Regions from separate parts of the Homo sapiens genome. Here regions 1, 3 and 4 are each reported to be linked to region 2. The links are microRNA targets in miRTarBase. Many come from high-throughput screens and were not tested one by one. Region 2 holds a microRNA gene; each other region holds the end of a gene's coding sequence.
Evidence for each region. The annotated mature microRNA hsa-miR-1272 reads GAUGAUGAUGGCAGCAAAUUCUGAAA and lies in region 2 at 5,581-5,606, opposite strand. An mRNA with a match to its seed (bases 2 to 7 or 8) in the 3' UTR can be bound and repressed. Matches are read on the target gene's strand: a 7mer-m8 pairs with bases 2 to 8, a 7mer-A1 pairs with bases 2 to 7 and ends in A, and an 8mer does both.

Region 1: miRTarBase lists TTC14 as a target of hsa-miR-1272. The part of its 3' UTR that is shown has no 7-base or 8-base seed match.
Region 3: the mRNA of OPHN1 is a reported target of hsa-miR-1272. Seed matches in the 3' UTR shown: 7mer-m8 at 7,048-7,054.
Region 4: miRTarBase lists TCEA1 as a target of hsa-miR-1272. Seed matches in the 3' UTR shown: 7mer-m8 at 5,924-5,930.

The regions. Positions count from the first base shown.
Region 1 is chr3:180,609,652-180,616,651 of GRCh38, reverse strand. It overlaps TTC14 (tetratricopeptide repeat domain 14), which reads right to left. Exons shown (of 12, transcript NM_133462.4): 12 at 5,522-7,000. The coding sequence ends at 6,110. It overlaps CCDC39 (coiled-coil domain 39 molecular ruler complex subunit), which reads left to right. Exons shown (of 20, transcript NM_181426.2): 18 at 1-136; 19 at 289-371; 20 at 1,575-2,644. The coding sequence ends at 1,731. Among named protein-coding and RNA genes, the nearest start is that of TTC14, 11 kb to the right of the region's middle.
Region 2 is chr15:64,756,891-64,764,593 of GRCh38, forward strand. It overlaps MIR1272 (microRNA 1272), which reads right to left and starts at 5,625; the gene lies at 5,497-5,625. All of the region lies in intron 1 of RBPMS2 (RNA binding protein, mRNA processing factor 2), which reads right to left. RefSeq lists an enhancer at 6,853-7,703.
Region 3 is chrX:68,042,399-68,050,101 of GRCh38, reverse strand. It overlaps OPHN1 (oligophrenin 1), which reads left to right. Exons shown (of 25, transcript NM_002547.3): 24 at 1,645-1,686; 25 at 2,939-7,703. The coding sequence ends at 1,678. Among named protein-coding and RNA genes, the nearest start is that of NXTAR, 260 kb to the right of the region's middle.
Region 4 is chr8:53,961,580-53,969,282 of GRCh38, forward strand. It overlaps TCEA1 (transcription elongation factor A1), which reads right to left. Exons shown (of 10, transcript NM_006756.4): 10 at 4,977-6,533. The coding sequence ends at 6,525. It overlaps LYPLA1-TCEA1 (LYPLA1-TCEA1 readthrough), which reads right to left. Exons shown (of 21, transcript NM_001425842.1): 21 at 4,977-6,533. The coding sequence ends at 6,525. Among named protein-coding and RNA genes, the nearest start is that of TCEA1, 57 kb to the right of the region's middle.

The sequences.
Region 1 (7,000 bases), not on the chromosome of region 2:
AGATGAAACAATGGAAGAACAAGACATCAAACTTCGTGAAATGAAACAGTTTCACAAAGTTATTGATGAAATGTTAGTTGATATCATAGAAGAAAATACTGAGATCCGTATTATCCTTCAAACATACTTTCAACAGGTAATACAGCACCTTCTATTAAATATTTCTTAAAAACTTCATGAAAATAAAAACTTTCATGACATTCATCATGAAGTGAAAGCTAATTAAAAATATTTATCTTCTAAAAAACAGTAGGTAGTACTAATGATTGCTATTGAATATTCCTCCAGAGTGGGTTAGAACTACCTACAGCTAGCACAAAAGGCAGTCGTCAGAGCTCTAGATCTCCTTCACATACTTCACTATCAGCAAGGTAAGCGGAGGGTTAAAAAAAAATCTGCTTAACTCTCACAGCTGTACACTAAGTGATTCCAGCCACTTCTACATCACCGCAGCTGTTAGGCAGGCCCATGCACTCACTGCCAGTGTTCTTTTCACTGTCAGACATCTCACTAGTCAGCATCATATAGATTAGATGCAGAAACAGCCAGCAGAACAAGAATTTCCTTCTGACTTCTGCTGGTGTCACTATTTCCAGTATAGCCCAAGTGCTCTGTGACTATGAGCTATTTCAGTAGGATAAAACAGAAATAAATTTGGGGGCTACATCTAGCATTTGGGGGTGAACCCCCAAGTTGGGGGAATTTTTTTAAAAACATGTAAGGGCAGCTTAGATGTACAGACATATAGAATATGATTTTTGTGATTCAAACCACACTGTGGTATTTTACATAATCAGGATTTGACTTTATGAAGCTTTATTTTGCTAAAAAGGAAACCCCTTTTTTTTTCTTCTGCAGTTGTTACCCAGAATTCTATCACCAGATGCTTAAGCAAACATTCTTGTGCTTTGCTGACAAAAATTTATTAATAATGATCCTGATTTTAGAATTCACAATCTCCTGCATTCAGCAGCTACTTATTAAATTACTATTCCTTAGTCCAGGTAAAAATTTCATGAAGAGGCCCCTAAAAAAAGTGTTTCATTTAAGTATAAAAAACTGTTTCTATATAACTGAACATCCCTGTACTTTCATAAAATATATATTTAAAACTTTTTTCAGAATTATATAGCTAGCTGTTTTTCAAATGACCCCACCACTTTATCCATCAATATGCTTCTCTCTTCTCTTCAGCTTAAATTACAAAAGGTATCATTTTAATTATTTTTGCCAGCACCAAATCCTCTTGGCCCTATTTCCTCTGTTTTGGAAACTTTCAATGCTTAATGATTCCAACTCTAAAAAACTGATTATAGTTCAAAGCATTTTTACCATGTAGGAACATACTTATTAAACTACTTTTCTACTGGTTTGAAACTCATCTATGTTCATCTTTCCTTTCCTGTTTAAATTGTTTGATATCTATTGATGGTCATTTAAAAACTTAACACTATTAATATGTACTTTTTTGATGTCTTTACTTATGGAATTATGGTACCTTTTGCCAATAATGAGAGGGTCTATACTAAAATATAAACTTTGCATTGAATTTATAATTCTGGTTTTTCTTCTAGGTCATCTAGGAGTACAAGTACATCTACTTCTCAGTCTTCAATTAAAGTACTGGAGCTTAAATTCCCGGCCTCCTCTTCACTAGTAGGCAGCCCTTCTAGGCCATCTAGTGCTAGTAGTAGCTCTAGTAATGTTAAGAGCAAAAAGAGCAGCAAATAAACATTTTAATCTCTTCTGAAAAAGTTGTAAACACAAAAACAAAAATATACTTTAAAATACAAAACGACCCAACACATTTTATCTAGTGGAAAGTGTAAAAACTTAGTGGTAAGTGTAAAAACTGATAGTTTTAAAAAAAAAGGAACGTTCTCATTTTCTCTACTGTTTTCTTCATACTGAAGAAATTAATAGCAGATTCTTGACAAGGCTACATGTTATACAAGCATAGGAAAAATGCTGTATTTCACTGTAATTCTGATGTTCGTAGTGTTAGAAAATAGTTTGCTTCATTATTTCACGAAACTACACTCACTTCTAATGTAACAATCTTTCAAGAAGAAATTTCTAAAGATTTACTGTACTATTATGAGCGTATTGCAATGTGAAAATCTCATTTACCCTACAAGACACCAAAATTAGGTTTTCTTTATTCAAAGTAACTATTTCTCAGACTTTTGGGGAGAAAAATTGTTAAAGGCAGTTTCTTCTTTTGCTATAATTTTTAACCAAAAAATAGCATCAACCCCTACCCACCCCACCCCCCCAAAAAAAAACCGGTAAGAGAAACACTGTATATCAATTTTAAAATGCAGCATAAATTTAGAAAAATCACTTCTGACCTTGAAATAAATCACTTCTGACCTTGAAATAAACGCATTAAAGATTTGCTTTCAGATACAGCCAACCAAGTATAAACAATTTTGAAATTTTCTTGATTTAATAAACGATTTAATGAAAGCTAGGTATGACTTGATTTGCAATAGAAATTTCATTTACAGTTGGAGGTAGACTGCCAAATGTAGTAGTTTTTCCAGTTAACACTTCATTATAACATGTGCCCAACACTTTGTACTCTTGGAATAGAGTGTGGAATATTATAAAACTGGATTTTAAATAAATGTATTAGAATTCACGAATGTACATGTGTCTCCTTCAAACCTTGGGAAAAAATGCTCATTACAACTGTCATTATTTTAGAACTGTTGTTTGTACTTCTTTCTGAAAAGCAGTAGTGGTAGTGAATAGTTCTCCTGATTATTTTTTGTTTTGTTTTAGAAATAGGAAAAAGGCATAGCAAAGTCAAGAATAAGGTGGGCGAAAAAAAAGGTAGGTAATAAAATTTTTGGCTAAAGTACTGCTCTAATGCATGAGATTTATAAGACCTAAAAACTAATTAAAGTCACTTTGCTCATCAAAGTTCTTATTCTCAGCCCTGTGCTAGTTTGGGAATTACTTAAAACTTGAAGTAATATTAAACACTCTTCTATGAAGGTAGAGGTTGTATCTTACTAGCTCTGTAACCTTGGATAGTTACTTCCCTGTTTTCCTCATTTGTACTATAGACACAGAAAGTTACCTACAAGTTTACCGAATTTGATAATATAAAAAAGATGCACAGGGCTTGACACACAGAAATTGCACTATATAACTTCTACTTACTGAGTTGCCACCTGGAGCTTAGCACAGAATTTGTGGAATGGTTTGGTTCTTGGGCCAGCATACGAATCTACATTTAATCCTTAAATAACAGTTCTAACAACTTCAGTGTAGTAATGACAAATGGTGCGACAGGGGATCAACCTATCTCCAAATCTGGACACTTATCCTCATATCCAAAAGTCATGCTTCATCTGCTTATGGAGACCAAGATATGGCAATATATGATCTTGAGAAAAATTACTGAAGATGTCGCTATTCTTGACAATGTAAATCCCCAATAATTTTTGCTGTGATGAACTTCCTTAGAAATTGGTTTGTATACTCTGCTTAATATGGCATAAACTGCAATTACTTTTGCGCCTACCTAATAAATTCAGGCAGCCTACAGGATAAGGTACTATTCTCTTACATTGAATGGGGTGTAATAGCCATTCTGACTGATGAGAGATATCTCATTTGGTTTTAATTTGCATTTCTCTAATTAGTGATGTTGAGTATTATTTCATACGCTTCTTGGCCATTTTTATCTCTTCTTTTGAAAAATACCTATTCATGTTTTCTGCTCACTTTTGGATAGGGTGATTTGGTTTGCTGAATTCCTTGTAAATTCTGGATGAGTCCCCTGCCTGATGCATAGTTTGCACATTTTGTCCCATTCTGCAGGTTGTCTGTTCACTGTGTTATTTCTTTTGCTGTGCAAGAACTTCGTAGCTTACTTAAGTCCCATTTTGTTTTTGTTGTGTTTAAGACACCAGTCTGGCTGTCACCCAAGTTGGAGTGCAGTGGCACAATCAGAGCTCACTGCAGCCTCGAACTCCTGGGCTCAAGCGATCCTCCCGCATAGCTGGGACTATAGGCATGCACCACCACACCCAACTTATTTGGATGGAGTCATGCTGCGTTGCCCAGGCCAGTCTCAAATTTCTAGCCTCAAGCAATCCTCCTCCCTCAGCCTCAAGTGCTGGGATTACAGGCATGAGTGACTGTACTCAGCCCCTCTTGCTTCCACTTTTGAGGTCTGAATCATGAATTCTGCCTACGCCAATGCTGGTAGGTTGGCAGGGGGGTAAGGGATGATAAATTATGAAATGGGTACAATGTACATCATTTGGGTGATGGTTACACTAGAAGCCCAGACTTCACCACTACACGATAGATCCATGTAACAAAAATGCATGTGTACCCCTTAAATTTATATGAATTAATTAAGGAAAAAAAAATTTTTTAAATGTTGTGTTTAAAATTTTAAGCTGAACTAGGGATTCCAAAAGGTCAAAGGCTATGTATGCCAAGAAGTAGTTTTCACTCTTTCTTTATAAACACGACTTTGTAAAGATGATACTGGAGCTATTAATACATAGAATTATTAAGGACTCTTTTTAAGATGAATTTCTTAAAGAAGCTTCTTCTTGGTGCAAAGACTAATGCTTTGAGTGACTAGCCGATTTCTATCACCATTATCTATTGCTCTTGACCAGGGTTTCTTTTCACTGTTCCATTTGCAAAAGAAATTTCAGATTTTTCACTAGGCTCTCATTACTGGAGTTTGATAGACACAGATAATACACACCCAGTACTTAAGGCCTGGACATTTTACTGTTGGCAAGAACTGCAAGACAGAACAAGGAATAAGTCTCTTCTTCCTCTATTATTCTCCCTCACTTAGACCTCTGTAGATCCTCAGCTACCCACCCACTTATCTAGTGTCATTGTGTGTGACAGTATCTAAAGTCCATTGTAATTTACAGCTTTGAGAATCTTAAACTGCAAACTCTAATGACATCATAAACCCAGTACCTATGACTCCTATCTCTATCTGTCTCCCAAAGAATATACCACACTATTTTCAGCAATTTGGGGAGGATCTTTATAATCCAAGTCTCTTTGTTCTTCAGCTCTAGCTGCTGGAATTTATTATTCTTAGTAAAACCAGGCTCTAGTTGGTCTAGTTATTTATTCAGACTCTGAGAAAGGGGTCATCAGAGAAGCATCAAGGCACAGGAGGTGGTAAGAAGAAATGCAGGTCAGATTTAACGACATGCCTAGTGCCTTCTGGACTGAACATCTGCTACACTAGGAGAGTCTCCCAATTTTCTTTCCCTAAAGAAAAGCCAGATTTACAATGTGCTTCTCTGCTACTGCTATGTTTTTGCTAAAAGGATTTTTTTCTTTTCTGATTTACCCTTGCGTGGAATACAGGCCCTAAGGGCCTTGTAAATATTTAAAGTTAAAAAGCTTTTTATGGCTATGCTAGCAATGAGGTAAAAAATAATGGAGAAATAAGCAAAATGGGCTCCTATTCAACTTTTATGATCTTATTCCTAAGGCACTTATGCTGGGTGGAAGCCAATGACTGTTCACAAACCACTTTTAATCAAATTGGGCTTTAGAGGAAAATTAAGACATATAATCTACCATTTAAAAATTTTAAAAAAAATTGGGCAAAAAATGTAATATTTAAACTGATAAATATAAAAGTGTTCAAGAAACATTCGAACATATAATCTTTCAAAAGCTGACGATTTTTAATTTAACAGAAAAGAAAATGAAATTAATTTTTATAAAAATGATCCAAGTGTTCAATGCACAAATTTTTCTCTCAAACAGCAGAATAAGATGCACCCAGGAATTCTCATATACCGCAATAGAATGAAGAAACAGTACTTTCAGAGAATTATCTTTAGGTGAAGAAATTCAAACTGTCAAGAGTAATATACTGTACATAAACATATACATAAAAAGTCTAAAAACCAAGCTGTGACAAGGGACCTAGAACTGAAACAAAATTTGAGAAAAACTTACTTAAAAGCATTTGTTTCCTGTAATCTCTACAAATAATTTTAGAAGCAGAGATTTCTGCACTCAACTGTTATGACTAATACAACCAAAAACTTCACTTAATGGCATTTTGTGTAATGGTGCCGATATCCTTGGTGTATTAATTTTTTGACTTATTTCCTTTTTCTTTTTCAAATTCAGCTATCTGATTAAATATATTCAGTAAATTCTGAGGTAAATTTTTCTTAACACTGCTTTCTGAGTGTTCTTTGCTACTTAGTGCATCTTCTTCTGGAACCTCTGTTTTGATATCCTCCCCATAATTGTCCTCTCTTTCATATTCTCCTTGATTTGTATTTAAACGGTATCTTTGCTCATGTCTACTGAAATCACGTGATCCAGAGTGAGCGTATTTTTTGTATTTCTCAACTGACTTCCAAGAGTATTCTGAGCTTGCTGGTGAGGTAGAATGCCTCACAGAACCTGGTTCCCACCTTCTATAGTGCTCTTTTCTTCCCTCTATATCCTTTTCAAATCTCCTATAACCATAAATCTTGTCCTCTGAATTCCTACAGAAGGAATCTGAGGAATTTCTTCTACTGGAAAAATGTCTTTCTGATTTATATGGCTTTTCTGTTTTGCTACTACCTGCTTGGGTTTTATAGCTGTTATAAAAATCTCTTGGATCTTCAGACCTACCTCCAAAATCATCCGGTATTTCAAGTGAAGATGAAGAGAGAGGGCATCTATCTTTCTCTTTTATCTGTGTCTTTTCATACTGTAACCTATCCTGCTTCCCCAGTAGTTTCTCCACTTCTTGTTTATGGTTAAGAAAAGATGCTGAAGTATTAGCTGGAACTGGGTAGCACTCATCTTTCCTATTCTGATCTATCTGATTTGAGGATGCCCTAGATGAATGCCTTCTGGAACTGCGAGAAGACTCTGAACGGTTCCTCTTATGTTTCTTATGCCTTTTGTGACCAGAAGAGGAAGAGGATGATGATGAAGACACTGATTCATCAGCAGAAGAAACACTTGAAGAAGAAGTTGA
Region 2 (7,703 bases):
TCCCTGACCTCAAGTGATCCGCCCGCCTTGGCCTCCCAAAGTACTGGCATTATAAGTGCGAGCCACCATGCCCGGCCTCATTTTTTTTTTTTTTTTTTTGGAAATGGAGTCTCGGTCTGTCTCCCAGGCTAGAGTGCAGTGGCGCTATCATAGCTCACTGCAGCATCAAACTCTTAGGCTCAAGAGATCTTCCTGCCTCAGCCTCCAGAGTATCTGGGACTATAGGTGTGCACCACAATGCCTGGCTAGCTTTTCCATTTTTGTAGCGATGAGGTCTCACTATGTTGCCTGGGCTGGTTTTGAACTCCTGGGCTCAGAGAATCCTTCTGCCCTGGCCTCCCCAAAGTGGTGGAATTACAGGTATGAGCCACCATGCCTGGCCTCAGTTTCATCTTCACAACACAAACACCATCTACCTCCAAGACTAAGAGCTCACCTTACTCTCCCCATTACTTGTGAGAGCAATAAAATGCTGGCTTCATTTAGGGCTCCTGCATTTACCTGCACAAGGATCTCCCTCATCAGGTGCCATGAGCCACTTATTAAGGTTGTCTACTGAAGCTGGTAATGTGGGTAGGATGTCCTAAGGTGGTCACTAGATTCTTTAGTTTTTCTCTTCCCCAGAGGAGGTAATGCCCGAAATAGAAGACACCACAGAGATCAGCTAGTTCAACCCCTTCGTTTTATAGATGGGGAAACTGAAGCCAAGAACAGGGTAACAAGGCAAGCTGATGGCACAGCCAGGATCTTTCAGCAATGGCAGGAACAGAGACATGCAGTTACTTCTCCAAGGTCCAGCCAACTAGTCTTGTGTCTCAGGCCAGTACAGGGGACCATTGTGGTACCTACGTCAGGGTAACAGGGGAAACATTCAGGAACAGGCTGGATGCTCCAACCTGGGCAATATAGCAAGGCCCTATCCCCCCCCACAAAAAATCAGCCAGGCGTGGTGGAAGGCACCTGAAGTCTGAGCAACTCGGGAGGCTGAGGTGGGAGCATCGCTTGAGCCCAGGAATTCAAGGCTGCAGTGAGTCATGATTGCACCACTTGAATTCCAGCCTGGGCAACAACAGAGCAAGACCCTACCTCTAAAAAACAAAAATAAAAAATAAAAGGTTAGATGCAGACAAGGATTCAGGCACCGACAACTAGTTGATGACAAGGAAAGTTCAACCAAATAACTCATGTCCTGCCTATTCCATGGGTTTATTACAAGAATTCAGCACATACACAAAACGTTTTAAAGCATTTAAAGAGTGCACAGGGGTGGTTCTCACAATCTCAGGCTGCTGGAAGGCACCAAACGCATTCACTTGGGCCCTTTTCCATACTCTCATCCCTTCTGCAGAAGCATCCAGCAACCCAAGGGTTCCTGTCCCAAAATGTGAAGAGCAACCACAGCCCTTCCAAAAAAGTCACCCTTATGGCAAGTAAGAGCAGAAATGCTGGGAGCACAGTCAGGTCCTCAGCACAGCTGGAAGGTACACCTGTAGTCACATGGAGCAGGTATGGGGGAGACCGGGGGAACGGATGGAGGATGATTCTGAGAACTCAGTCAAAGATACTTGTTGAGGAACAACCCTTCTGGTGGAACCTGCTGCAAGCACCAATATAGGCAAGGAACGTGGCCAGGGTTGTGTACCCATACAGAATACCACAGACATGGCTGTGTGGCTCTCATGACCCCACAGGAGCAGACCCAGCCCTGCTGGAGGTCCCAGCCAGTGCCAGGCCTACCTAGGGGAACTGACCAACTTTTGGCACAACTGCCTCTGCCCAGCAAAGCTTTGGAGGCACCCAGAGCTGCTCTTTTCTGAGGCAAGTCTTGCCTCTAGAGTCACAGGGAGTGGGAGGGTGGGAGAGGGGTCCATGGACCCCACAGGCTATCACTTACTGGCACTTCCTGGAGTCCTCTAGATCTTTGCTGCCAATTGTTTATAAGCCTGACTCCTTTGGGGAGAAGGGCCTGTGTGTTCTTGAGCTCTCTCCCGCCAGCCAGTGCTAGACCTAGAGTGCCTGGGAGCTACCTATTTTTATTTTTAATTAAAAATTAAACTTTTATTTTTATTTTATTTTTATTTTTTGAGATGGGGCGTCACTCTGTGGCCTGGGCTGGTCTCGAACTCTTGGGCTCAAGTGATCTTCCTGCCCCAGCCTCCCAAAGCACTGGAATTATAGGTGTGAGCCACCTCACCCATCCTGAGCCACCTCTTGACCTCTCCCCACCTCCCCGGGAGGCCCCTCAGTCTCACTCCCAGCTCCAGCATCGTAACTCAGCCCTGGGGTCCTGGGGAAGGGGAGCACAGCACCTGGGTGGCACAGGAAGTAGAGCCCCCCATCCTCAGCCTTGTTTCTGGAGGCCCCTGGAATGGGGAATCCCCTCCTAGTACGAATAGATCTAGGAGGAGCTTTTGGACCATGCTGTCTAATCCCACCACGACGGAGGAGCCTGCCCAGGCTGCCCAGGTCACCCAGCCCTCTCTTTCAGGAAGGTGTGAGCTGCAAGCTGACATCCAAATGTTCTTCCTCCACAGCCCTCTCCAGCCTAGAGGTTAAGGGGTCATTTTTTAGAGAAGAGAAGTAAGAAGAAGGGGCTCTGACAAACCCATTCCCATCTACGTGTCGGTGATGTTCTTCCTTCAGACAAACTGACATTTGTTTCAGGATCTTCAGAAAAGACCAAATTAAACAACCCTTCAGGAGCAAAGTATCAGGAGCACCCAAGACACCAGCACAAATCCAGGCTTGCGTGGAAAGGGACTCGGCCTGTTTTTCTTTTTTTAATTATTTTTTAATTTTTTTGAGATGGAGTCTTGCTGTCACCTAGGCTGGAGTGCAGTGGCACCATCTCAGCTCACTGCAACCTCTACTTCCCGTGTTCAAGCGATTCTCCTGCCTCAGCCTCCGGAGTAGCTATGACTACAGGAGCGCGCCACCATGCCCGGCTAATTTTTGTATTTTTAGTAGAGATGGGGTTCCGCCATGTTGGCCAGGATGGTCTTGAACTCCTGACCTCAAGTGATCTGCCCACCTTGGCCTCCCAAAGTTCTGGGATTACAGGCGTGAGCCACCGCGCCAGGCCTACTCGGCCTGTGTCTATCAGCTCAGGTAGACGTCTCTCTTGGCCCTGGACACTGCCATGGGCAGACCTGGCATTCAAGCTGCTGCCACAAAAGGCCAGTGCCCTGGACAGCAGATGCTTAGGGTCCCTCCTTCCAGGGCACACACAGGGCCCAGCTCACATGGAGGTCCTGCAGGAATAGGGAATGGGCTCGTGGGGGAGAAGGAGGGGCCAAAGCAGCTGAGCAAAGCCTCCATGAAGAACAGGACTGGGACATGGGGTCGGCCAGGAGCCACGACCATGGGGACCCCACACTTGGTCAGAAGTGGCTGCGGCCTGGCCGCTCACCAGAAGCGTGTCTCCCTCTGCAAGGGGAAGGACAAGCCCGATGCTGAGGGATCCAACTCTAAACTTCTCAGATACTGTGACCATGAGGACAAGTTCCGTAAGTGCTGGCTTTTATTAGTGATGGAAAAGGTAAACACTGCTTTCAAAAACAGTGGTAGGCTCAGGGATATTAAAGTCTCTTAAGCTTTAAGTTTGGAGGACAAATCCCGGCCTTAGAATAGCCACGAAAGGACCCCAGACTCCAGGAACCACCACCTAGAAAACAGATCCTTCTCCGGATCACCTGAGGTCAGGAGTTCTAGACCAGCCTGGCTAACATGGTGAAATCCCCTTTCCACTAAAAATACAAAAATCAGCCAGGCATGGTAGCGCACGCCTGTAATCCCAGCTACTCGGGAGGCTGAGGCTGGAGAAATCGCTTGAACCCAGGAGACAGAGGTTGCACTGAGCCGAGATCACGTCATTGCACTCCAGCTTGGGCAAAAAGAGTGAAACTCCATCTCGAAAAAAAAAAAAGAAAGCAAACAGACCCTTCTCCACCAAGGATACTGAGGCAAGAAACCACTGGAACCACTCCCCACTCTTCCCTGCCCACAGACAACCCACCAACCCACCAGGAACAGTCACCCCTAGAGGCCAACTCTGGCCTTCTGTAAATTCCTGTCTCACAGGATTGGGACTTGGAGAAAAGACACCCCAGGAAAATCTCACTGCAGGCAATAGAAATATCCTTAAAAAAAAAAAAAAAAAGACTTTTGCAGCAACCCTTTAGCATCTCTAAAAGTTAGAATTCAATCTGGAAAGGAAGAATTGTTTCAACTGTCCACTCACAATGTTCAAGTAACGAATGCACGTGCTTCAGCAGTCCCCTACCCACTGCTTCGAGCGAGCTCTCCCGGTGTCATCCCGATGGAAAACACTACTTTGGGAAGGGGGTGAGAAGAGGAGAGAAATCCAAAAAGGGAAAAACGAGCCTCTTATAAGCCCCTCCCACATCCTTCCCCAACTCCCAGCCCTCAGTAGCAACCCAAATACAGAACATCTGAGCTGGAAGAAACCTTATTTTTAGAGGAGGAAACCAGGGCCTAGGGGTCGAGCGAGTTGCTCGCAGTTACCGAGCATGTCAGAAACAGCCTGTTCCCAAGTGCCCAGCTCACGAGTCAATGCTCTTTTGCAGACCTTGATCTCACACCAACCCACTCAGACCCAGTGGGGCCAGCCCAAGGTACCCAGGAACAACTGGCCTTCGGCTTTTTTGAGACAGGGTCTTGCTCTGTTGCTCAGGCTGGAGTGCAGTGGCGCAAACATGGCTCACTGCAGCCTCCTGGACTCAAGCGATCCTCTTGCCTCCATCTCCTGAGTAACTGGGACCACAGGTGCACACCACAAAGCCCAGCTTTTTTTTTTTTTTTTTTTTTTTTGAGACGGAGTCTCACTCTGTCGCCCAGGCTGCAATGCAATGGCATGATCTTGGCTCACTGCAACCTCCACCTCCGCCTCCTGGGTTCAAGTGATTCTCCTGCCTCAGCCTCCCAAATAGCTGGGATTATAGGCACCCACCACCATGCCCGACAATTTTTGTATTTTTAGTAGAGATGGGGTTCCACCATGTTGGCCAGGCTGGTCTCAAAAACTCCTGACCTCAAGTGATCCATCCGCCTCAGCATCCCAAAGTGCTGGGATTACAAGCATGAGCCACTGTGCCCAACTCCCGGCTAATTTTTTAATTTTGTGTAGAGGTGGGGTCTCACCATGTTGCCCAAGCTCATCTCGAATTCCTGGACTCAAGCCATCCTCCTGCAATCCCAAAGTGACTCACGCCTGGCCTGGTCTTCAGCTCATGAACAAAGAGGACAGACACAGTATCTTGCAAAAGGTTGGGGTAGGTATGATGGTGATGGTGGCGATGGCAGGGGGGTGGGGGGTGGTCCCACTGGATGATGCCACGGTGAATCCTACATGGTTACAGGCCAACGACGAGACTGACTGACAGACTGTCAACTCCCCACAGCTGAGTGTGAGTGGCCTTGTGCCCCACTAGCTATGGGGAGGTTGGGGATGGGTGCTGGAGCAGGCCCAGCCATCCCTACCAGCCCAGACCACAGAGCACACGAGCTGCAGCCTACATTTCTAAGTTTACGGCTTTCCTGTTATAAAGACACTGAGCACGTTTTCAGAATTTGCTGCCATCATCATCGCACCCAGATCTGATCTGGCTTCCCCAAGGGAAAGAGACCCCACTGAGAACCAGGACACTGCACTCAGGGTCCAGCTCAGAAGATACCCACTGACGAGATTCCAAACAAAAGACAAAGAACCTCAAAACAACGTCAGGAAGCCCAGGGTGAAGCCCCAGCCCTGTCACCAGCCATAGCAGGTGGCTTTGTGGCCTTCGCTTGTCAGCCTCAGCTACAGTAGAGTAGACTCGCCTCAGGTCCCGTCACACACTGACACTCTATGACACCAGGCGTTTTAAAGGGCAGTAGAATGCGACTGAGTCTCAGATAAGACTCAGCCACCATCCTCCATCTGCTCAGAGCTTCAGTGACTCCTTCTGCACACAAGGTGGCAAAGAAGTGGTGTGAACAGAGAAGAGAAGGGGACAAGATGGAAGTCAGGGGCCAGCCAGCTCTGGGCCCTAGACCGACCTGGGCCTGGGAACTTGAGGGGGGTCTCTGCAGAGCCAACGTTAGGGCTGCCGAACAGAAACGTCAGGGCAGTCATACCCTTGGTGTGGTCTTGGTCGCCGTAGTGGGTAGGGGGTGGGGGTGGGAGTGTTTTGGGGGATTGGGTCCTGCCTGGGCCCCGCGCTTAGGCTTGGCACCAGCAGGTTGCTCTTACGCCTCCCATAGGAAAGAAGGCCCTCTGAGTATGGCCACTTGACGTGAGGTGGATGGAATGTGGCGACATGGCCTGCAGACCCAGGACTTATAAGGCTCTGAATAAGGACACAGGGGAAGACAGCAAGCAGCACACAGCCAGACAGTGGATGTGAACCTAGATCCACACACTCCACAACATGTTTCCCATGCTTCCTGCAAGGAGCTCTGGGGTGGCTCAGCTACCCAGGCAAGGACGATGCCCAGATCCCCTTGCAAGAAGCCCCCATCTAGAGGACACTTGGCCCCAGAGTTTACCAGTGTCACCACAGCCTCACCTAGTAAGGACAAGTCCCAGGTTCAGGTGGGATCTGGTGTTCTGCCTGCCCCTGCTATCCCTCTTGCCCCAAATCCCATGTTATCAGGGCCTGGCTATAAGGCCCCATCCTGGGCTGCACCTTGTAGTTTCATTCCTTTACACAAACCATCAGCATGCAAAGCTCATAGTCCTTTGAGCAACAGGTAGAACAGGTATGGGGTCCCCATTTTACAGATGCAGAAGTCAGTCCAGGGATCAAGTGCCTGGCTGGCCAGTGGCAGAGCTGAGGCTTAAGTCCAAGTTGCCTGAAAAGTTTGGGGCTCTTCCTCATAATGTGCAATGTGTCCTAGACTTCCAATGGTGTGTGTGTGTAGGGGTGGGGGGAATAGAGACTGGGGGGAACTAAGCCAGGGTGAAAAGTTATCTGAAAGGAGGGACAGGGCTGGGCAGGTATAAGAAGGCTTCAGGCCTCATTCTCCAAGCCACTTCCAGCCCCAGGAAGAGAAGCCTTAATGTCGTGGGAACACACCTGGTCAAAGCCTGTTGTGTGCACTTGACCTACACCTCATTTAGGGAACTAGACCAAACAGAGAATGAGCTGTGCTTGCAAACTCTGTGTCAGGGCAGGCTGGCTGAAGCGTGCCTTCCATCAGGATCCAGACAGAGCCAGGGGCCAGGACTTGGCTTTCAGGGGCAAAGTTCACTGGGCACCCCGGCATGGAAGCCTCCCAGGCCCACCCACCTCCTGCAGCCTTCTTGGTGCTGTGTGGCCAGCTAACACAGATCTACTGCCTGCCTGTGTGCCTGGCAAGGGTTGCAGTTGCCGCCACTGCCATACAATACCCTACAGAAGGGACTAGATTCAAGGCATTGGGCTAGAGGACCCCTACACCCCTCACTGCCAGCTCCTAAATCAATACCTCCAACCCTTAAACCACATGATGCTATGCTGGCATGAACACACAGCCCCGAGCCCACCACACCTAGCCCATTACTTGACGGAGGCGAATGAAACCTGACAGGAGAGATGTTTCCTAACATGATGCTCCTGTCAGGAGGGGGTTTCTGTTCAGAGGTAGAAGCTGCTTCTGCAACCTGCATTCTGATTTGCAGCTCCCTGCCACAAACATAGCAGGACCCTCCATCCCAAGCTGTG
Region 3 (7,703 bases), not on the chromosome of region 2:
CAGTCCCGTCTATGGTCATTGTTGCTAAGTTCTTCTCTCATCTCTAATGAAAATGATGATCTTTTTAAACTTTGTCTTGCCCCTTTTTGGTCCCCATTTGTATACCTGACTACGGCCTAGCGTTTGAATGACATCACCCCCTTATTCATTTCCCTTACACAATTTAAACATAAATAACTAAGAAGAAAATGAGTAGTGGCTCATCAAGAACATAAAGGAGGTGAGAACATTTCAAAGAGGCCCGACAGCTTATGGTTTCAGAAGTTATTAGTGTTCCACTTTGGCTAGAATGTGGGAGTGAAAAGAGGGAAACTTAGCTGGGGGTGAGACCAGAAAGATGGATTGGAGCCAGATCGTGAAGGCATTGTATAACATACTAAGGTGCTTGGTCTTTATACTGCAGTCCATATGCGGATGAGTCATAGAAAGGGGGGAAGAATTTCAAGAATGACAGTCACATTCTGAGCTGACCAAGTTGTAAAAAGATCACTTTGGTAGTGGGAAAGATAGATGGGAGAGTAAAGACTGGAGACCAGTTAAGGAGACTAATTGTCCTGGCAAGAGTTGGGGAAGCCCTGGCCTATGGCATTCCCAGTGGGAATGGAACAGAAGGGACAGATTTGAGAAAGACTCAATAAGACCTTGCTACATTTTCAAACATGGAACATTGATGAACCGAGAAAGAGAAAAGTCTAACTTGGGCACTTAAGTAGATGGTACAATAATTAATCATGGAGAAGCAGGTTTTATGGGAAAGATGCTGAGCTCAATTTTGGACACAGTGATTTTGAAGACACAGTTGTTAAATTTATACAAATTTTTTAAAGACACTTTGAGACTTAGGTAGAGATAGATGTTCAGTGGGTAACTGCAACTTAGGCTAGCAGTTGGAGCTGGATGTATGTATACATAGATTTGGGGGTTAGAAATATGAGTATAGCCACTATATAAGTCTGGGGAGTGGGGCTAGTCACATATGCTACAATGTGAATAGTAGCCTGTTGTGGGGAGGTCCCTAGTATTTGGTGGCAATTGAAGCCATGGATGGGAATAAGATCCTCCAGGGAGTAAGTGTAAACAGACTGGAGAGAAGAGAAAAACAGAAGGTTGAGGACATAGCCCTGGGGACCAGCTGTTGTACGTAATGCTCTGGCCACACTAGAGTGGGTTTCATTTGCCAAGATTTTCTCCTCCCCAAGCTGTCCCCAGACATGGGTAATTTAGAACTAATCCAAGCACATCAAGAGGCTGGACAAGGTTGGTTTGGTCTTCTAGGCAAAGGAGGATTCATCTTTCACATGGTACTTGTCTGTGTCCTCACCCTTATCCCTGTTAGAGATCATCACAGAATGTAGTTCGTGGTCTGCAGCCAGCTTCCCTGGGTTCTCCAAGCTTCACATAGTCTGGTACTCAGAGAATTGTTCTGGCACCTGAAAGATGTCTTCACATCTCTTTAAGCCTGCCAGAGAAGGAGCCCCAACTATAAGCATGGAGCTAAATGTTTTGAAACATCTGGGCTGAATCACTTCTCCATTTTTCAAATGGCCTCTTTAGCACTGGCCTAGAAGTGTCCCCCATTCCCCCAATTTACCTTTCCAGTCCTGATTTCTAGAATCTTAGTGAAACGTCTTTCTTTATCCACAGTTCTCAAGGCAGACTTCCTGGAGATGAAAGTTGAGGCTACAGGTATGCAGTCCCCATCCCTGATTACAAAATCTTGTTCCACATAAGCCTTCATTACGGGATCTGATATTTTGAGGACTGGAATAACATGTAGATCAGAAGGGTGGGAACTCACTTCTACGCCTCAGTTCATTACTCTATCACTGCCTGACCCTTAAATTTAGTGACTTTCAATTCCAAGGTTTTGTGTGATTTTAAGTAACCTTCCTCTTTCATTTCTTTTTCTCCTAGCCAAACTATGGCACGCTTTTACAGATTGCCTTTGAATCAAATTTATTAAGAATCCTAGGCTGTGACATTTTGGGAAAGTACATTTACTTCTCTGAGCCTCAGTTTCCCAGTTTCTAAAATGAGAAGGTTGGAACCTTCTAACTCTGACACCTCTCGGGCCTTTAAGGAAACCAGGAACATGCTTTCTGATATTATAACAGATGCCAAGAGGCTACCTTAGTGTCTGTAGATGGATTCATTCCTGCAGACCAAATCATTATTTCAGTCTTACCCACCTGAACCTTCATTCTTAGTCCTTTATGTTTGTCCAATGCAAAGCACTTTCACATTCATTATTTCATTTGATGCATATCACATGCCAGGAGAAGGGAGGATAATATGTGTTCTAACTCAACAAATAAAGGAACTGAAGTTCAGAGGGGATAAGTGACTTGCAAAGGTCACAGGAGACTCAGAGGTCAGGGAAATTCCTTTCTCTATCATAGGAGTTCTGATTGTTTGACTATCAGATTGCTGGCATGATGTGACCTGATAACACACATAAATGAGATCCAAGTATCTGGAGCTTGGCTTTTCATGTGCTCCCTAACCTTCTTTTTTTCCCTGTCACTGCCAGTCCTCAGAGGTCCGTGGGTAGATAAGCTTCTCCTTATCAGCCCCTATGGAGGTGAAGTCCCTGTTAAAAGGAAGTTTATAGTTATTGTATGACCATAAAGGCAGTGGGCATGATGTGGGAAGAAATCTCAGAGGTTCTAGTATCAGGCTTCTATTTCTCCATGTAGATTTTGGGGAGTTTGAGTTGAGGTCAAAGGCACAAAGTGTCCAGCCCTGGTCATAGCACCATCTTAGGCCTGTTTCATGAGATTTGACTTGTAAGAGCCTTTGCCCAGCAATCCGCTGTTGCTCAGAAGATGAGCTACCAATTATAGGCTTAGCTACCTACCAAGAGAAGCCCCACTGATCAGTGGCTGTTAAGTACTTGACCAGTCCTCGCTAATTCCCTACTCTCTTCTTTCTCTTTCAGGTTTTAAAAGCCTTGGCCTCAGAGGACCCTTTCCAGGTTCTGAAAGAGTCTTTCTTCTTCAAACCTTTGTGTGCGGAGTCATTTTGTGTTGAAGAGCAGCTCCTTCCTAGCCTTGCACTTTCAGACTCTCTCTGGGAGGCCATAAAATAAGGAGCATATGTCCTAGACAGGTGTTTATATCTCCTTTGTATTCTGTCTTCATCCCCTCAGAAGGTCTGTTTTGAGTTCCTATAACACTGTGAAGAGCTGGACTCCCTCAAGCCAGACTCTGCCAAAACCAAGATATCCACTTACCTGAGTTGAAGAGGGGAGCTCAGTTTTCAACTCTTCCCTGAACTTCCTGCTTCCTCAGAGGGCCATTGAACTCTGAGAGATTTGGGGCTAAAGACTGATCTCAGGGGTCTTACCTTGAACTGAAGGCCACTTGAGTTGGGGCCATTGCTTACCTTGGTTGGAAGGGAATAGAAATGTTTGCTGAACATTGGAGAATCTCAACATGTCTCCTACTGAGGATATGGACACTGGTGCCATGTCAGCGCTCTGGTGCTGCAGTATGTTGCCAAGAGCCCGTCTGCTCCTGCGAGGCTATGAGTGGGATGAGTGATGCCCCCACAGCACCTCCATGTGGACTTAGGAAGGTGGCCTTCCTGCTGTTACATGCAGCCACTTAGGACAAATCTGCAAAGCATGTTTTGCATGTAAAAGCCTAGGTCTATTTGGATTATTCTTTCTCCTTTTTTTTGACAGCTTCCTGTCAAGCAATCAAGAAACAAACAAAAGCTGAACACATTTCTTTTTAAAAAAAGGAGACTGTGTTTGGTCCTGTAGGAGTTCTATTTTGGGGTCAAATGCTAGAAAAATTGTTAAGGTGGATTGAGGCCAGGCAGCTGTCACTGCTGCTTCATGTTTGCCTTCTGCACATAAACTCTTTTATCTCCTGAAAAAAGCAGTTCTTAACCCAGTGTCCATGGACTCAGAAACTCCATGATGCCCCTGAGATGGTATGCACAATTCCATGACAATATGCCCTTTCTGGGGAGATAGTCCATAATGTTCTGCTAAATTTCAAATGGGCTCGTGACCCAAAAAAGTCAAGAACCACAGCACTTGAGTAAAATACTCTTTTTACAATCCATATAAGCCCTTGATTGGAAGGGCTTTTCAAAATCATTTAGTCTAACAACTGCCCAGTTTCCAGTCGGGGGAACTGAGGCAGAGCAAGGTAGTGATCACACCAGTACAAGATCTCAGGTCCCAGGCTCCTATGCAAGTTTTTTTTCCCCATTATATCACACTTATCTAGCAAGGGACCTTGTGGTTTGTGGCTTTAGTGGCCATCATTTCTGGGGGTTGGCTTTTACCCTTTTTCTTGAATATTTGCCACCAAGTGAAAAATGTTAGGACATAAACCCTTGCCAGGTCCCTTTCATTTGCTATCTCTATTATTGGAAAGGACCTAAAAATTGGTGTAATGGGGCAGAAATCTGAGGAATGGACATTTCTAATTCCTGTTTGTTGAAGGGAAGTTGCTGGAAAGAGCATCAGTACTTGTTTCTATGCAGATGCCTGGGCCGTAGCTTGTCTGTAGCGTCTGTATAATTATAATGTTGCCCAGTGTGAGGGAAAGAGCTTTCCTACTTGCACTCTTCTACCAAGGCCCTGTTAGTGCACTGATTATAGTACTGACAGATAAACCTAGATAAAGAGATAGAGAGTGAGTACATGCACACTCATGTGCAAACCCACTCAGAGATGCATTTGGAACAGTGCTACTGAAAGGCAGTAGTCATTTTCAAGACTGAATTCCAAACATGGTTTATTGGTGAGTTAGGAACATGTAAGGCCAAGTACACTGAGAGCCTTTTTGAAAGTAATTGAGTGGAAACTTGATGCCATTCTAAATCAAGGCATATCCAGGTGGCCCGGTTGAACTCACTCCACTGTACCCAGTCTCAAAGGCCAGGTTGCTAAGAAACCAGGAGTAAAAGAGTCAAGTGACCATCATTTCACCTGCTGCTTGCCCCCAATAGTAGTCTCTGTGAGGCCTTACTGACCTCACCTAGGAAGTGATTTTTGAGCCCTTGTTTCAGGGCTGTGGCCTCCCTGCTCTATCCTGAATAAAGCAGACAGGTGTGCAGATTTTGGCCATGAAAGCATGGCTAATAGGGCCACAGTCCCTTTAAAGAAACATGGTTTGACTCTGGTTTTCTTGGGGGAAAATACCACAATCACCGATGCAAACATTGGAAGATTATTGAGAGCCCTAGAAAGCTGCTGTGATCCCAGTAGAAAATATGTCCCAGAAATGTCATGAGATTGCTGTGTGTTGCCTGGGACACAGATCAAGGGCCTATCTTGGAGAGCTGGGGACCAGCAGTCTGCCTGGAGGCCAGGGAGCAGTGGCTGAGTAGCTCTGCCTTTGCTCTGGTCTATACCTTAAGAATGCCAAAGAATGAATTTCAACGCCTGCCTTTGGCACTCTGACTTAAAGTGCAAAAAGCTTCTGTGGCGAGGCATGCTATCATGGAATGAGACTGGCTTGCCCTAGGCTTAATGGATGGGCAGTCATTTTGCAGAGGCTATGGGAAGAGGGTGATAATAGAAGAGTGGCAGCTATAGGAAATTATCAACATACCTTGGCCAGCAAGTTAGAGAATCTGGCAATGGATGAACTGAAAGTGATGAACTGGCAGGGATAACAAAGAACCTAACATTTATTAAGCACGTATTTATTAACTGCTCAGTGTTTCATATTCATGCAAGTATTCTCATTTTACAGAGAAAGAAATTATGGCCCAGGGGGCTAAAGTAAACAACTCAAGGGCACATAGAAAGTAAATAAAAGGACTGTGATTTGAATCCAGGCCACTCTTAGCCCATGCTGTTTTCCCTTTGCCACACTGTGGTAGGTGTTTGAACAGAGGCCACATTACTAGAGTTGGCATGACTCTTGACTCTTGCCTGCCTAACAAAATATTGAAAGGCAAACATTTGAAGGAGGGAGGGGGTGCAGGTTCAGTTTATATGGAAATGCAAACTGGGCTGGAAGATATTCCTGAGTTAGGCTTTCTCTTCATATTCAGCTTGCACATTTGGTAATGTTTTTAAGATGATCATCTAATTTTATTTTGTGAAGTGAAGGATTTGTGTTTTAGTTGGCAGTTGTTAAGTCCTTGGCTTGCCATTTTTCAAAAAGTAAAAAGGTCCTCACAGGTGTCTCCATACTTCGCCAAGGTTGTAGCATGGGCAGTTTCAGTTTCAGCCTAAGAGACTGGTGACATCCACAAATGCAGTTTTAGAAGCAGAAAAGGTCTTGGTGCCTCTGCAGTACTTGATGTATTGGGGTCAAATCTCTACAAATTTTTCTGTGGTGATAGCAAAATCAAGAGATGGCTTACAAAAAGAAATATTGAATTTTTATTTTTGAAGTTTTTGTTTTTTAAAAGGTTGGGGGTGTTCAGCCACTGAGGGACAAAACTTAGCATCTAATTTCAATTATAGTGTCATGCAGAGTATTTCTAAAGTAATTGGTTATCATGGGAAAGTATTCTCTTTTCAAGAAGTTCTTTGATTCTGTAATAACTAGAACAAATAAAGTAGTAAAAGAAGAAATAGTTCTGTGACTAGGAAAAAATTGCTTTTGAGAGAACATAGATCAATTATACTACTTCTAAGGTAGCTGCAGATAAGTGGCCTTGACACATTACAAGCCTGGAAAAAAACATCAGAAATAATAAAAAATTTCAGAGAGAATCAAGATACCTTTTTTTTTCTTTTTTTTTTCTTTTTTTTATTATACTCTAAGTTTTAGGGTACATGTGCACATTGTGCAGGTTAGTTACATATGTATACATGTGCCATGCTGGTGCGCTGCACCCACTAATGTGTCATCTAGCATTAGGTATATCTCCCAGTGCTATCCCTCCCCCCTCCCCCGACCCCACCACAGTCCCCAGAGTGTGATATTCCCCTTCCTGTGTCCATGTGATCTCATTGTTCAATTCCCACCTATGAGTGAGAATATGCGGTGTTTGGTTTTTTGTTCTTGCGATAGTTTACTGAGAATGATGGTTTCCAATTTCATCCATGTCCCTACAAAGGATATGAACTCATCATTTTTTATGGCTGCATAGTATTCCATGGTGTATATGTGCCACATTTTCTTAATCCAGTCTATCATTGTTGGACATTTGGGTTGGTTCCAAGTCTTTGCTATTGTGAATAGTGCCGCAATAAACATACGTGTGCATGTGTCTTTATAGCAGCATGATTTATACTCATTTGGGTATATACCCAGTAATGGGATGGCTGGGTCAAATGGTATTTCTAGTTCTAGATCCCTGAGGAATCGCCACACTGACTTCCACAATGGTTGAACTAGTTTACAGTCCAACCAACAGTGTAAAAGTGTTCCTATTTCTCCGCATCCTCTCCAGCACCTGTTGTTTCCTGACTTTTTAATGATTGCCATTCTAACTGGTGTGAGATGATATCTCATAGTGGTTTTGATTTGCATTTCTCTGATGGCCAGTGATGATGAGCATTTCTTCATGTGTTTTTTGGCTGCATAAATGTCTTCTTTTGAGAAGTGTCTGTTCATGTCCTTCGCGAAGGACAAGATACCTTAAAGATAAGTTTTCGATAAAGAAAAGCCTTCATTTTCCTGGGGGAAATGAAGCACTTGATGCCAAGGACATTAGTAGAGGGCTAGAAAGATTGCCTGTGTGAAAGACATATGCTATATCCAAATAATAAAACAAACGAG
Region 4 (7,703 bases), not on the chromosome of region 2:
TATCTGCATCATTGACAAAAGAGCTTCCTGGTCTCCTGCTCCCAGTCTCAGCCCATTCAAATCCATCTTTCAAATGCCTACAAGGTGGTCATCCTCACATACATTTCTGCTTGTCACCATCCCTCCACTCCTTAACATCTTTCAGTAGTTCCTGATTGCCTGGAGTCAAATACTGAGTTCTTGGCCCAGCATAATAAGCAAGGCCCTCTGCAGTCAGGCTACTGCCTCCCTAGCCAGCTGTTTCTGTTTTAGTCTCTAGAACACAGATGTGTAGAAAAGGTGCATATGCCACTCAGACCTTCATGACTGTTCCTGAAAACTTGGTTTCTGCTCTCCCTTACCTGCTCCCTCTAAAGTTCCACTCTTTACCCAGCGAACTCCTATCATTTCTATAAGATTTGCCTCCTCCAAGAAACCTGACCTCTTAAGTCATACCTACATCCTGTGTTTGGGGGCCATTTTTTAATGTTGCAGGAATATTCTGCACAATATTTATCATTTGAGTCATTATAAATTGAGACTCCCATCTCAAAAAAAAGTGATATGTATATATATGTGTGTTTATACAATGAAATATTAGCCATAAAAGTAAGGAACTCCTGCCGGGCATGATGGCTCATGCCTGTAATCCCAGCACTTTGGGAGGCTGAGGCGGGCAGATCACGAGGTCAGGAGTTCGAGACCAGCCTAACCAACATGGTGAAACCCCGTCTCTACTAAAAATACAAAAATTAGCTGGGTGTGGTGGTGTGCGCCTGTAATCTCAGCTATTTGGGAGGCTGAGGCGGGAGCATTGCTTGAACCCGGGAGGCAGAGGTTGTGGTAAGCTGAGATCGTGCCATTGCCCTCCAGCCTGGGCAATAAGAGCGAAACTCTGTCTCAAAAAAAAAAAAAAAAAAAGTAAGGAACTCCTGCCATATGTGACAGAATTGATGAATCAGGATAATGGACAAATCGTGAGGACATTATGATAAGTGAAAGAAAGACAAATACTGCATAAAATAGTTAAACTCATAGAAGCATAGAATGGTGGTTGCCAGGGGCTGGCGAGAGGGGAAGTAGGGAGCTGCTGTTCAATGGGTATAAAGTTTCACTTATATAAGGTAAGTGCTAGAGATCTGCTGTACAACATTGTGCTTATAAATATAAAAATTTGTTAAGTGGGTAGATCTCATGTTACCTGTTCTTACTCAATAAAAAAATTGAAAAAGATGGACAGATCAGCAAAACATTAAGATAAGTCAGCCTGATATTAACCCATAACCTTAATGCTCCCCTAGGTCTCTTTTGCTTCTGCAGGTTAACTGGAAATCTTAGCAGTATTCTCACAGCTTTTGATGTTTTGTATCAGCTCTTTTATTTAACTCAAATATTCACCCAAAATAATTTAAGATTTTTTTTCACTTGCTTGTGAGAGCAACCTGTTTCAAATTAGCTTAAGCACAAAGGAAAATGATTTCTCCTCATAAGCAGGAAGTCTACAGTAGTTCCAGCTTCCACATGGCTGGGTCCAGATGTCCGATATTATCAGGACTCTCTCCATCTCAACTCCCCTCAGCTTCATCATACACAAAGGATCTCTGCATGTAGTAGGCAAAAAGCTGCAGGGAGCCCCAAACGCAGCTCAAGGTGGCTTAGCTGTCACTGTTCATATGGGAATCTCAAGGACGGGCATGGGGTAGGGGGGACACTGTGAATGAGACCTGCCGGAGTCATGTAGAGAGGAGAAGGGGCGAAGCTGCCCCTAAATAAATTAGGAAAGCATTTGGGAACTAATGCTGAGTTCATTCATGAGTTCACTAATGCTGAGACAGAAGCTATACCTATCACAGTCCAAACTCCAGTGCTCTCAGTTTTTGCTTTTTTAATACCTGCTATACTTTCACATTGGCATTATCACACAAATAACGTTTACTTCAAAGTAGTTCAGTCACCCAATTATAAAAACACTTGGACCAATTTAACCAGACTGTATGGGATATCACATATGAAATGTGTCTCTTTGGAATCATGGCCATTAAGGGGAAAAATAAAAATTAGCTATCTTTATATAGCATCCAGGGAGAGGAATCAGAACAAGGTAAGTCACCTGAGACAGCTCCCTGTGCTTTCAATTTCCATCCTCCAGCTGGATAAACAAGTACCAAGAGTACACTGAAACTGTTGCATCACTTTGCAGAAATAAAGCACCAAAAGGGATCTCCCAACACTCTAACTCCTTACATTCCTTATTTTAAAGTTGGAGTCTAAAACATGACCAACCATTAATTATCCACTCTACCTCTGCAAGTCCTCGACCCATGGAACATTCTTTCTTTCTTTATATCTTAGCTCTTGAACAGCCAAGAACATCATGTAACACATTGATAAAGACATATCCAAGAAAAACTATTTCATGAGCACCTATGTGACAGGCATTCTTCTGGATGCTAGAGACAGCAGTGAACACATTTCCCACAAGAACTTAACTCCACCTCTACTAAGTTATAGCTGTTGATTATCGAATATAGCCATGATTATAAGCTGTTTTTTCCACTCAATTTCACTATTACTTTTTATTGACTTCAACTTACTTAAACATTGTTCAACATAATTCTTCCATTACTTCCTAGGAATTTGTCAGTAACTCTGTCCTATTTCCTGTGAAGTAGTATCCTTAACATTGGTCCTTTGTTTTTCATATGTGGCTTTTTTTTTTCTTTTTATTGAGACAGAGTTTTGCTCTTGTTGCCCAGGCTGGAGTGCAATGGCACGATCTGGGCTCACTGCAACCTCCACCTCCCAGGTTCAAGCAATTCTCCTGCCTCAGCCTCCCAAGTAGCTGGGATTACAGGCATGTGCCACCATGCCCAGCTAATTTTGTATTTTTAGTAGAGACAGGGTTTCACTATGTTGGTCAGGCTGGTCTCAAACTCCTGACCTCAGGTGATCCACCTACCTCGGCCTCCCAAAGTGTTGGGATTACAGGAGTGAGGCACCGTGCCTGGCCTCATATGTGGCTTTCACTAGTAATTCAGTGATTATCCCCATCGGGTTTCCCAGTGGGATATACAATTCCTTTTGAATCATTAATTTTCTACAACTAAATACAACTAAATAAAGGGGAGATAGAAAACAATTTTTTGTTTTTTAAAAATTTTATATAGAGACAGGGTCTCGCTCTGTTGCCCAGGCTGGTTTCAAACTCCTGAGCTCAAGCAATCCTCTTGCCTTGGCCTCCCAAAGTGCTGGGATTACAGGCATGAGCCACCTCACTGGTCTGGTTTGTTTTTTTGTTTTTGTTTTCTTAAGATAGGGTCTCATTCTGTTGCCCAGGGTGTTGTACAGTGGTGCAAACACAGCTCACTACAGCCTCAATCTTCTGAGCTCAAAGGATCCTCCTGCCTCAGCCCCCTGAATAGCAGAGACCACAGGTATGCACCACCATGCCTAGCTAGTTTTTTTATTTTTTGTAGAAACAGGGTCTTGCTTTGTTCCCCAGGTTGGTCTCGAACTCCTGGGCTGAAGCAATCCTCCTGCCTCAGCCTCCCAAAGTGCTGGGATTACAGGTGTGAGCCACCAAGCCCAGCCTGGGAACAACTGTTGAGTGAAACTCTCTAAATCACAACTCTAACTGTAGTTTTTATTTTGAGAAATGGCTGGGCACAGTGGCTCAAGTCTGTAATCCCAGCACTTTGGGAGGCTGACGCAGGCAAACTGCATTAGCCCAGGAGTTCAAGACCAGCCTGGGCAACATGGCCCATCTCTAATAAAAGCACAAAAATAGCTGGGTGTGCTGGCGTGCACCTATAATCCCAGCTACTCGGGAAGCTGAGGTGGGAAGATCACTTGAGCCCAGGAGGTGGAGGTTGCAGTGAGCAGATTGTGCCACTGCACTCCAGTCAGGGTGAATGAGTGAGACCCTGTCTCCAAAAAAAGAAAAAAAAAGAAATAAAGAAAAAAGAAATAAAGTCAATTCAAATCCACAAATTACAATTTGACCCACAAGGACAACGACTATGTAGCTATAATAATTCAAAGCACAGCCTGTTATTTCTTTTGCTGTCTTCTTAATACTTAAAATATTTGCCATTTGTAAGATTACATATAGGTTTAAGTGATTGGGTGAATATAAATATTTCTGAATTTTTGCCACAGCTTAGCAAAATTTATAAACCAATGCTCGTCATCATCCAGGTAAGCTAGAAAACCAAGATTATCATTTTCTGCTTTCCCCAGGATGGTTCTTCATTATCTGCTAGTATATTTGTCTAATTCCTTTGCATGTTCATTTAACAAAGTTACTTTGCCCTCAAAGTAAATATCATAAAATACTACCCTTAATATTTACTTCTGATTACTTTACAAATGTCTAGTATTGGGCCGGGCACGGTGGCTCATGCCTATAATCCCAGCACTTTGGGAGGCCGAGGTGGGTGGATCAGCTGAGGTCAGGAGTTCGAGACCAGCCTGACCAACATGGTGAAATGCCATCTCTACTAAAAAATACAAAAATTAGCTGGGCATGGTGGCGGGCGCCTGTAATCCTAGCTACTTGGGAGGCTGAGGCAGGAAAATCGCTTGAACCTGGGAGGCATAGGTTGCAGTGAGCCGAGATTGCACCATTGCACTCCAGCCTGGGTGACAGAACAAGACTCCATCTCAAAAAAATAAAAAAATAAATAAATAAAGTCTAGTATTTTCCAATAGCAAGACTCACTATTTGGTCTCTCACATTAAATTAAGTGTACACATGGGATGCACTCACGTATTTACTCAGAACCTGCCATTCCATCCATCGCCAGAGGTCCAGGAAAAGATAAGAAAGAAAACATGCTCTGTAATGCTGCTGAATACTAGTTTTTACTGAAGACCAGGCTTCACTTAATTAAAACTGTACTTTAGAAATACCTTAGTAGTTGAGGGGACAGCAGGTGTGTGGTTAAACAAAAGGTAAAGCAAGCTTCATTGTCTAAATAAAATGACAAAATGTGATATATGTTTAACAACAAAAAAAACTTTATTGAATTACAAATTTTAAAATGGATCACTTAAAAGTGAGATTATTTTATTCTGAAACATTATTTCAAAAATGTACTTTGTTTTTGAAATAAAACAAAATCTTCAACTATGAACTGACAAAATAGAGGTGAGTTGGTACCAGTGGGCCAATTCTTAACACGGACATTTAAAAATGCTGCTTTCTGTATTACAACAAAATGATATGCAATAAGAAATTGGAAAAAGGGAGCAAAGGAGAGTGCAAAGCATGTACTGAGGTCTTTCTACGGGTGCCTGACAGAATGCAGATTCAGCATAAAATGTAGACTTTGCAACAGTGGCCTTTAAAGTATGCTAGAGCAAGTGTACCCTAGGGAACCTATGTCAAAACAATTTTTGTCTTACTCCAAACAGAAAAAATGGTACACACTTTAACAAAAGCAAAACTTAATTGTAAGATCTGTACTGTAAAGCTACTTGCTATAGCCCATATATTCAGTTTGTTCAACAATCTCACTCATGACAGAAAAAGTCAGCAAATAAGACTTGGGACAAAATTATTTTCTATCAGTCTCCACATGGAAAGACCACAGCTTTAATGAATTATACAATCCTTAAGATTAATCCTTGGTCAGTATAGATTTCCGAATCAAAATCTAGTCATGAACTGTTTACAATAGCTATACTACACTAAGATGCTAAACATTTTCTTTCCAGTATGTCTTCCTAAGAGGGGAAAAAAATAGTGGGAAGTTTTCATCTTTGCCTATGAGGGGATTTATGAAAAGCCTTCTAAACTACAACAGTGTTCTTCTGCAAAACTAAAACACATTATAAAGTCAAACAGGTAAATTAACAGGAAAACCAAACTGATCTCAATAAAGTCTTGTTTCCAAAAATCTATTAAGAACAAGTAATATACATGTACAAGAAATTACAAGAAATGATGATCACGGTTAGTTACAGATGCAAAATAATATCTAATATTCCAAGCTTGTGAACATAATAATTAAAATCAAATTCATAAGCTACCTCAAAATTATGTACATTTTAGATAAGCTGGTCAAGTATTATTTGAATACACACCATATTTGGTAAACCTAAAATTATATTACCTTTTCTCCTCCTTTAATATTTGTAGCTACATGCCAATATGGAAAAAAATGTATTTTCATTTATGTATTAATAACAGAGAGTAACAGAATTTCTACTGTGTATGTTTCACAGTGTAAAAGAAAAAAAGTTAAGGTATATTTTCCTTTAAGAAAGAAGAAATATTGCCAAGAGTTTAATTAATATCAACTTACTTATAAAAACAGAAAAAATATGTTTTGAAACAGGTACCATAAAATTATTATATGGTCTCCCTACTGATCTGAAACTACAGAAGGCATTTAAGGAAGGGATGTTAGGTCAAAAACAAAGTCTAACCCAAGTTGCTTTAAAAATTTGATTTGCAGGAAAACTAGTTGCTTGGCCTAGTTTAAAGCTAGTTACAAAATCCGTTTTCTTAATGGTCCAGATATTTTGCCAATTCTTCCAACTCAACAGAACTGTCAAAAAAGAAAAAATATTTTGTAAGACCTTTAAATACCAATAAGGTACATTCCCCATTTAATACAGCATACACCTGATATTGCTTTTAAAAAAGATGCATTTTTGAAAAAGATGCTGTATTTTTCACACATAATAATCACCTATCTTAAGTGCCTGACTTTCCCAACTTAGAACTACTAGGAACATACAACTAAAGAACTTGTATAAAACAATTTCAGCATTTTTATTAAATACCTCTTTATAATGTTTTTAAGGTTAAAAAAAAAAAAATAACAATTCCAAAATTGAACTTCTAAAATATGCCACTCTAGGCATCAGCTTTCTATCCTAAAATTGAACTTTCTTAAATTCAATTAAGTACTATGTCAAAACTTGTGTCACAAAGTGCATGTATTCAAAGCAAACTGCACTGTACACCTCATCACCATAATAAAAATGATCCATCAGCTGGGCACGGTGGCTCACACCTGTAATCTCAGCACTTTGGGAGGCCGAGATGGGCAGATCATGAGGTCAGGAGATCAAGACCATCCTGGCCAACGTGGTGAAACCCCGTCTCTACTAAAATACAAAAAATTAGCCAGGCATGGTGGTCCCAGGTACTCGGAAGGCTGAGACAGGGGAATCTCTTGAACCCGGGGCCACAGAACAAGACTCCATCTCAAACAACAACAACAACAAAAAAGATCCATCATGCAAAACAAATCCAAGAGAACAGGCCAAATTTTCTCAACACGATTGAAAAAGAAGGTGAATGTCCCTCTCCTAGACCAATGACAACTTCTGCAACCTGAGATGGGTAGGAAATACTGTTTCAAACCATGAAGACACTTTCAGTAGCAGTAATCTTTCCAGCTCAGAACTAAATCTTTGTACGTAATAAGGGTACTGGGCCGGCCACGGTGGCTCACGCCTGTAATCCCAGCACTTTCGGAGGCCAAGGCAGGCAGATAACCTGAGGTCAGGAGTTCAAGAGCAGCCTGGCCAACATGGTGAAACGCCATCTCTACTAAAAATACAAAAATTAGCTGGGCATGGTGGCACATTCCTGTAATCCCAGCTACTTGGGAGGCTGAGGCAGGAGAATCGCTTGAACCTGGGAGGCGAAGGTTGCAGTGAGCTGAGATAGCGCCACTGCACTCCAGCCTGGGCAACACAGTGAGGAT